2 separate regions of the Homo sapiens genome follow, and region 2 is linked to region 1. Evidence: fine-mapped expression QTL. A gene starts in region 1. The other region holds a variant in brackets. All regions are shown on one strand. Distances are between the middles of the regions.

Region 1 (4,000 bases):
CTTGAACCCAGTGTCAATGGCTCCAAGACCAGTGTCTTTCCACTGAGTAATGCCAGTTCCCTATGGCTCCTCATACAAGGTTCATCTGGACAGTTGATGCTTAAGATATATTTGTTGCCTGGAACACAAATCAGCTGGTTTATTTGTTGCCTGCGTTCAGAAACTGGAACACAAATCAAGTGGTTTTTTAATGTAATCACTAAAAGGTTTCCTTTAGGGCACCAAGTCTAGTGGGAGCAGAAGCTGAAGCCAGGCTTCCTTCTTTCCTTTTTTTTTTTTGAGACGGAGTCTTGCTCCATTGCCCAGGCTGGGGTGCAGTGGTGTGATCTTGGCTCACTGCAGCCTCAGCCTCCCCCTTGGCTCACTGCAACCTCTGCCTCCGGGGTTCAGGGAATTCTCCTGCCTTAGCCTCCCAAGTAAGTGGAATTACAGGAGCACGTCACCACGCCCTGCTAATTTTTGTGTTTTTAGCAAAGACAGGGTTTCAATATGTTGGCCAGACTGGTCTCGAACTCCTGACTTCAGGTGACCCACCTGCCTCTGCCTCCCAAATTGCTGGGATTACAGGCGTGAGCCACCGTGCCTGGCCATGAAGGTTATCTTTCAAGTCCATTCTGGCAAACTTTGGTGAGGGGATCACACACTGACCCCAGAACCAAGTCTTCATTCGGACTCTCTACCCTAGGTCAGGCACTGGACTAGACTCCAAATTCAATCAAGATGTCTTGCCCTGACACAACATGCAGTCTGGAGGGAGAGAAAGCCTTTGATCTTACATAGTGATAGCAATAAAGGGACACATTTAAAGCATCAAAGTTGGGACCAGGGAGAATAGCGTGGTGGGTTAGGGCTGGGGCTCTGGAGACCCAGACTGTCTGGGCCTGAGTCTGGTGGGTTTTGTTTGCTTGTTTGTTTGTTTGTTTGTTTGAGACGGAGTCTCCCACTGTCGTCCGGGCTGGAATGCAATGGCGAGATCTTGGCTCACTGCAACCTCCGCCTCCCGGGTTCAAGCGATTCTCCTGCCTCAGCCTCCCAAGTAGCTGAGACTACAGGCGCCCGCCACCACGCCCAGCTCATTTTTTGTATTTTTAGTAGAGACAGGGTTTCACTATGTTGGCCAGGCTGGTCTCGAACTCCTGACTGACCTGATGATCCGCCCGCCTCGGCCTCCCAAAGTGCTGGAATTACAGGCGTTGAGCCACCGCACCCGGCCAAGTCTCTTCTGTCACTGACTAGCCGAGGGTTATCTGTTTGGTGCAAGTTTTGTAACCTCTTAAGTATGTTTCCTCCTCAGTACGAAATGGCGAGAGAAGCCCCTACTGCAGAGCGTTGCTTGCTACCATTATTATTATTGTTATTATTTGGCTGTGAAGATCGGGTATGTGGTGTGGGAAGGGGGCTGGAGCGCCTAGCCGTGTCTGCCCCTCGCCCACCGCCCTCCCTGGGGGGCAGTCGGCACCTTCCTTGCAGCCCCCTCGGCCTGCGCTCCCGTGGTCACCCGCAGACTCCTCCACGCCGGGCTCCTGCGCGCAATCCAGCTCTGCTGCACCACCTGTCGCAGGCTCCGAGGGCTCAGGGTGCATGTTTACTTCGGCGACACCGAACGCCCCGCAGCTTTGGGGGGCCCAGGTTCGCGGCGGACGTCGCTACGGCCCCAGCCCAGCCAGAGAGTACCCTCTTTCCTTCTTCGCCAGCCGCTGGCGCCCTAGTCTTTACAGCCCAACGCTTCCCCGGTCGCCCAGGCAACCGCTGCGCACGCGCACTCGGGACGGACCGGCGCGCTGGGGACGCCGGGGGGTGGGGGCGGGTCTGAGACGGCTCCGCCCCCGGCGCGTACGCGGGTCACGTGAGGGCGCGGCGCGGCAGCAGCTCCGGCGGCCGAGACGGGGGCGGCGGCCGCGCGGGTCTGGCGGGACCGGTTTGGAAGACTTTGCCGGCCTGCAGGTACCGCGCCCCCCGCGCCCTGGGCGCCCTCTCGCGGTCCTTTCGCCCCAGACCCCTCCTCGGTCCCCTCAGCGCCAGCCGGCTGCTTGGCGAGACCCCTCTGAGCTCTCACCACGCCCCCCAGGCCCCGGGCCCCCTCCGCTGCATCCGGCCCCGAAGCCCCTTGGCGCCCCTGACCCCAGGAAATCTTCGTCCCTCCGTCCCGTGAGACTCCTTCCTTCAGACCAAAAAGCCCCAGCCCCGCCCCTTCACATCTCAGAGCCCCCCTTCCCCCGGCTCCATCCTCACGCCCCCCGCCGCGGCGCTGCACCCCTGTTCTCTCTCTTCCCCCGGGCCTTGCCCCCCAAACCGCGAACCCCGTTGTCGCCGGCGCATGCCCTGCCCTCCCTGCAGCCTCTCACCCGGCTCCTCCCCCGAGCGGCCCCAGCAATCGCCTCCTTTGTCGGTGCTTCTTTATTCTCATTTCTGAACGATTTGGTTTGAGTTGTTGTTGCCGTGTTTTTCTAAAATGGAAATATGCAGCGGTCGTGGGTTCAGCCAGGATTTCCGAGTTTGCTCGTGTTGACTGGGCCTTGCCGGGTGCTGGAGGGGAAGGGCTGGGAAGAAGAACCAGGCAGGTCCCCGTTCTGAACGTGCCACCCAGACGCAGCCCCAGAAACCGGATCGCTGCAGCGCCCCTCGGCGATCCCAACATGATGTGTACAGGTGACTGCGAGGCAGTCGGGGGGTCTCACAGTGGGCTCCCTGGACAGGACTCTGCGCCTTGCTATACCTCCATCTGAATTGCAGGTAGCCCCTTTCTGAGTTGTGGGGTCTTGGGTGTGCGACTTTACATCTATAAGACTCAATTTCCCCATCTATAAACGGGAGAGTCTGACTGCGCTTTATAAGATTAATGAGAGAATAAAGTGAGACAATAGGAATAAAGCACTTAGCAGAGTCTTTTGCATAAAGTGAGCTCTCAATTTTACTCTGACCGCCACAGGAGAGAGAGAGAGAGAGAGAGGGAGGGAGGGAGAGGGAGAGGGAGGGGGAGGGGGAGGGTGTTGATTGATTGATTGATTCAGACAATCTCGCTCTGTCGCCCGGGCTGTAGTGCAATGGTGCCTGCGATCTCAGCTCCTGCTACCTCTGCCCGCCATCCCGCACCCCGGGCCCAAGTGATTCTCCTGCCTCAGCCTTCCGAGTAGCTGGGATTACAGGCACGTTCTACCACACCCAGCTAATTTTTTTTTTTTTTTTTTTAGTAGAGACGGGGTTTCGCTGTGTTGGTCAGGGTAGCCTTGAACTCCTGGCCTCAAGTGATCTGCCCGCCTTGGCCTCCCAAAGTTCTGGGGTTACAGACATGAGCCACTGTACCCGGCCAAGTTTGTGGTTTTAATCACTGCTGGAATATTCTAGGGCAACAGAGTTGAACATATTGGTGCTACTTTTTTTTAAAGTAGGTTTTCAAAAATCGAAATGACTTACGCATGACATAAAATTTATCATTTTAGCCATTTTACAGTGTATAACTCAGTAGTTCTTGCTATAGTCACAATGCTATGCAACCATCACCAGTAACTAATTCCAGAACATTTAATCACCTACAAAAGAAACCCCAACCCCATTAACAGTCATACCTCTTTTCTCCCCCTGTCCCTCAGCAGCCCTAAGTTATCTTCTGTCTCTATGGATTTGCTTATGCTGGACATTTCATACAAGTGGAAACATACAACATACGGCCTTTTGTATTTGGTTTCTGTCCTTTAGCATAATGTTTTCAAAGTTTATCCATGTTGTAGTATGTATCAGTACTTCATGCTTTTTTATGGCTGAATAATACTCCTTTGTGTGGATAACACCACATTTTGCTTATTCATTCATTTGTTGATGGACATTTTGTTTGTTTCTGCCTTCTGGCAGTTGTGAGTAGGCCACTGTGAACATGCAAGCAGGAGTTTTTATGTGAGCAAAAGTTTCTAATTATCTTGGGTATCTGCCTAGGAGTGGGGTACTCTGAATATTTTAATTCTTACTGCATAAATACAGACATGATGGTGAAGAGTGTTGGATC
Region 2 (4,000 bases), 76 kb after region 1:
TGCTTTCAATTAATGGGATTTTTTTAAAGCATACAACTAATTGGGAAATAACCTTAAATCTGAGAGTTTTCATCTATATAAGTTCTCTTAGTCAGATGAAGTTTTTCATCAAAGAACTTTTGACAAAAGTTCCTGTTTTATAATAGAAAAAAAATGTCTCCATAAAATTGGAAGCTGTCAGAAATAGTGGTTTCTAGACTTTTCTAGTGATACGTCCGAGGCAGTCCATAGGCTACTTTGGTTGTAGTTACTTAGTATCTGTGTATAAATTTTATTTTTCCCTATTTAGTGAAGTATTTCTCGGAACCAGTTTTGGTAAGAATTGAGTTTTTCTGGTTTCCACGTGTTTTCTCCTGGAGCTTTTCACTTTAGCCTTTGTCTGATTTCTTTTTCCTGCAGCCTGACTGGCAGCCCTATTTGCCACAGAACGGAGACAACATTGAAGTTGCCTTCTCCTACTCCTCGGTCTTATGGCCTTGGTCGGGCTACCTGGCCATCTCCATTTCTGTGACCAAGAAAGCGGCTTCCTGGGAAGGCATTGCTCAGGGCCATGTCATGATCACTGTGGCTTCCCCAGCAGAGACAGAGGTAGGGATATGCGGGAAAGTGGCTTGTTTTCTTAGCTGTTTGACATCACCTTTCAGGGAGGGACAGGCCAAATGCCTGGGGTCTCCATTGGAAGTACAGTTGACAGATAGGCTTATCCTCGATGGCCACAATTGATGGTTCCAGGGCCTCCGGAGCAGCTGGAGTTTGAAGAAGTAGCTCAGTCAGTGAGTGCTAGGGCTTGCCGTTCTGTGGCCACACAACAGCAGAGAAGACTGTTTTCTACCAGATTTCAAGCTCAAAAGGAGTGCACCAAAAATATACATTCTCTAAAAGGAAATGTAGGGTTAATCCTATGAGGCTCTAGTAGTTTTTATTGATAGAATATGCCTTAAATTTTAACTGTTAAACTCTTTAAGTGTTTGAATGGACTTAGTTATGATACATGAATCTTTCATCAGACATTTGTTATTGGAAATTCTTGTGTTCAAATTATTTAGGTTAAGTTGATAAATAGAAATGATGTTTTCAAACCTGAAAGTTTCTTTCTGCACAATGAGGGCGTTTCAAGTTTCTTTTCTTTTTTTTTAGTCAAAAAATGGTGCAGAACAGACTTCAACAGTAAAGCTCCCCATTAAGGTGAAGATAATTCCTACTCCCCCGCGAAGCAAGAGAGTTCTCTGGGATCAGTACCACAACCTCCGCTATCCACCTGGCTATTTCCCCAGGGATAATTTAAGGATGAAGAATGACCCTTTAGACTGGTAAGCACCTCACAGGATGCACTTCACCTCCCCAGCCTCCGTGGTGGGAGGAGGCACCACTGTTCCCGCAACTCTTGGAAAGATGTTGCTCAGCTTCTCGTGGAGCCTGGACTCTGATGACGCTGAGATGTTCAGGCTTTTGCCATGCACTTAGGGCAGCCTGACTTCTCTTTTGAAACTTTCACAAGTATGATTATGCAGTAAAAAGCTTGAAGTTCTCTTTTCCTTCCTTCTCCCATTGCGCCAGTCAGCAAAGCTGTCAGTCTTACCCTCAAACTGCATCCTGGATCCTTCCATCTCTGGCCTTCTCCCTGCTCCCACCCTAGTCCATGCCATTGTCATCTCTTGCCTGGACCACATCAGCAGCTCCTGAGTGCCACTGCTGTTGCTGTTGTTGCCCTAAATTCCACTCCTCTTCTGGCAACCTTGGTAATCTTAAAACAAATTCTAACACAGTTTGCCTCAAGCTCTCCAGTGACTGCCTATTCTGACTTCCTCACCCGGCCAAGCCCCCTGGTGTGACCCATGCAGCCCTTCAGAAGCTGGCACTGCTTCCCCCGCAGTCCCCATAGCCGCTCTCCCTGTGCCTGTTCCCTGCAGGGCAGCTGGGCTGACTTTCTCTTGGTGCATTAGCCAAGCTCATTTCTGCTTTTATGTTTGGACTA[C/A]GTTTGAACTCCATGCTGAAAGTAGGGGAAGGGGAAGCATTGAAAGATGTGACCAGGATAGTTACAGAGTCAGACTTGCCTTTTAAAATAAGATGTCTCTGGCAGCCAGATTGGAGGGGCTCAGACCAGAGACGGGTAGACAGGAAGTGGTGGGAAGTTCATAGACCAAGGCAAGCCCGTTGGCCTGCAGGAGAGGACCTGGAGTCTGTGCTGCTGGGAGGTGAGAATGAGGTGACCCCTAGAGGGTGTATACAGTGTCCCATAGGAAAGTGAGCTCATTTGGGAGGGACGGGGATGGAAAGTTGACCAGTGGCAGTGATATCAGTTAGCTGTGCCGCTGTCTTAGCACCGTGGCCCTGCGTGGCTTGTTCCAGCGTCCCTGCACTCCCGCGGCTATTTGCTAAGCTCTTCTGTCAGACACAGATGGTTGCCAGCAATTTACTTGAACGCGACTGCTACAGTGATGGTCCAGGACACATTAAACATGTCTTTGGCCATTTCTTCTGGTCATTTTGTCTCTTTCATGCACCTGCCAGGCACATGGTTTCTTCTTATCAGCCATTTCCGTGTGTCCAGACCAGAGCACACAGGTCTCCTAAGCTGATGCCTGTGCCAGTGGGCCAGCCATCCAGGCCTTCTCTGTGGGCCATGGCATGGTGCTCTTGCAGAGCCGGCCCTGTGGCCAGATATGCCTTTATTGCCAGTAAAGATCGATCATTTTAATGCTGTGGCCTATTGTTTTTCAGGAATGGTGATCACATCCACACCAATTTCAGGGATATGTACCAGCATCTGAGAAGCATGGGCTACTTTGTAGAGGTCCTCGGGGCCCCCTTCACGTGTTTTGATGCCAGTCAGTATGGTAAGTGGCACTGCTGTGCTAGCCAGATGGTCTTTCCGCCCACTTTGGATGTTTGTTAAATGTCTGAGGAGTGAATCCCAGTTTTCAGTGATAGCTACCAAGGGAGTATGCGCCGTGGGCCCCACAGCTGGGTGAGCCTGGGGCGAGGCTCTGAAACAGGTGGTGGCGGTGTGACATTCAGCTGAAATACAAGACAGGCTGATTGGAGACAGGGACATTCGTACTCTTTTTTCTTTAAGTTAAAAGCAGCTCTGCTATATATTTTGCTCCTTCTCAAGTGAATGAAAATCTTTATCCTGAGCACCACAAGTGAAATCAGATCACAGTTAGTCGCTGTGTATTGCTGGATCCTGGTCCTCTACTTTTTAGTCCCTTTTAAAGTGGTACAGGGTGGCACAAACCAGACTGTTAGGTGTCAGTAACCTGAGACATGTACCTGGTGACACTGTTTCTGCCGTGGTGGTGTCCTGTCATTCAGAAGTGACAGTTCCCAGCTTTGGTTCTTTGTTCATCAGGCACTTTGCTGATGGTGGACAGTGAGGAGGAGTACTTCCCTGAAGAGATCGCCAAGCTCCGGAGGGACGTGGACAACGGCCTCTCGCTCGTCATCTTCAGTGACTGGTACAACACTTCTGTTATGAGAAAAGTGAAGTTTTATGATGAAAACACAAGGTACTGTTGATACGCATTGGTATTTGGATAAGACTTTTGGGGAATCAAATTCTACCCAGCAAATACTTAAGTGATGATTTGACCTGTTGGTGGTCTTTCCAGTTGGCACAGACACATTCAGAGAGCTTGATTAGAAAAAAAGCCCTTTCGACTGAGTGCGGTTGCTCACGCCTGTAATCCCAGCACTTTGGAAGGCTGAGTTGGGCAGATCGGTTGAACCTGGGAGGCCAAGGCTGCAGTGAGCTGAGATCAAGCCACTGTACTCCAGCCTGGGTGTCAGAGAGACCCTATCTCAAAGAGAAAAAATAAAACACAAAAAAGAAAATAGTCCTTTATACAGTAGAGAGGTTCTTGAAAGTTGCTCATAGAGTAAGATGTTTATTGAGTATGAGTACTGTTAATAATATAGAGGGTTCATTGTCTTTCCTTGTTAATCTTAGATATGAGATACTTCAGGTTTAAACTTCTGTTTAATTCTTTTCCACTCTCTG

What was found. PIP is the estimated chance that this variant, and not a neighbour inherited with it, causes the effect.
Region 2: its variant is fine-mapped to the expression of HSDL1 in whole blood (INTERVAL, PIP above 0.99).

What each region holds. Positions count from the first base shown.
Region 1 is chr16:84,143,024-84,147,023 of GRCh38, reverse strand. HSDL1 (hydroxysteroid dehydrogenase like 1) reads left to right here and starts at 1,847. Exons shown (of 6, transcript NM_031463.5): 1 at 1,847-1,944. DNAAF1 (dynein axonemal assembly factor 1) reads right to left here and starts at 1,716. Exons shown (of 12, transcript NM_178452.6): 1 at 1,460-1,716. The coding sequence starts at 1,583. RefSeq lists silencers at 1,663-2,112, 2,273-2,322, 2,373-2,422.
Region 2 is chr16:84,067,176-84,071,175 of GRCh38, reverse strand. MBTPS1 (membrane bound transcription factor peptidase, site 1) reads left to right here. Exons shown (of 23, transcript NM_003791.4): 13 at 400-588; 14 at 1,138-1,310; 15 at 2,722-2,837; 16 at 3,353-3,509. Among named protein-coding and RNA genes, the nearest start is that of SLC38A8, 26 kb to the right of the region's middle. The variant C/A (reference allele first, on the strand shown) is at 1,976.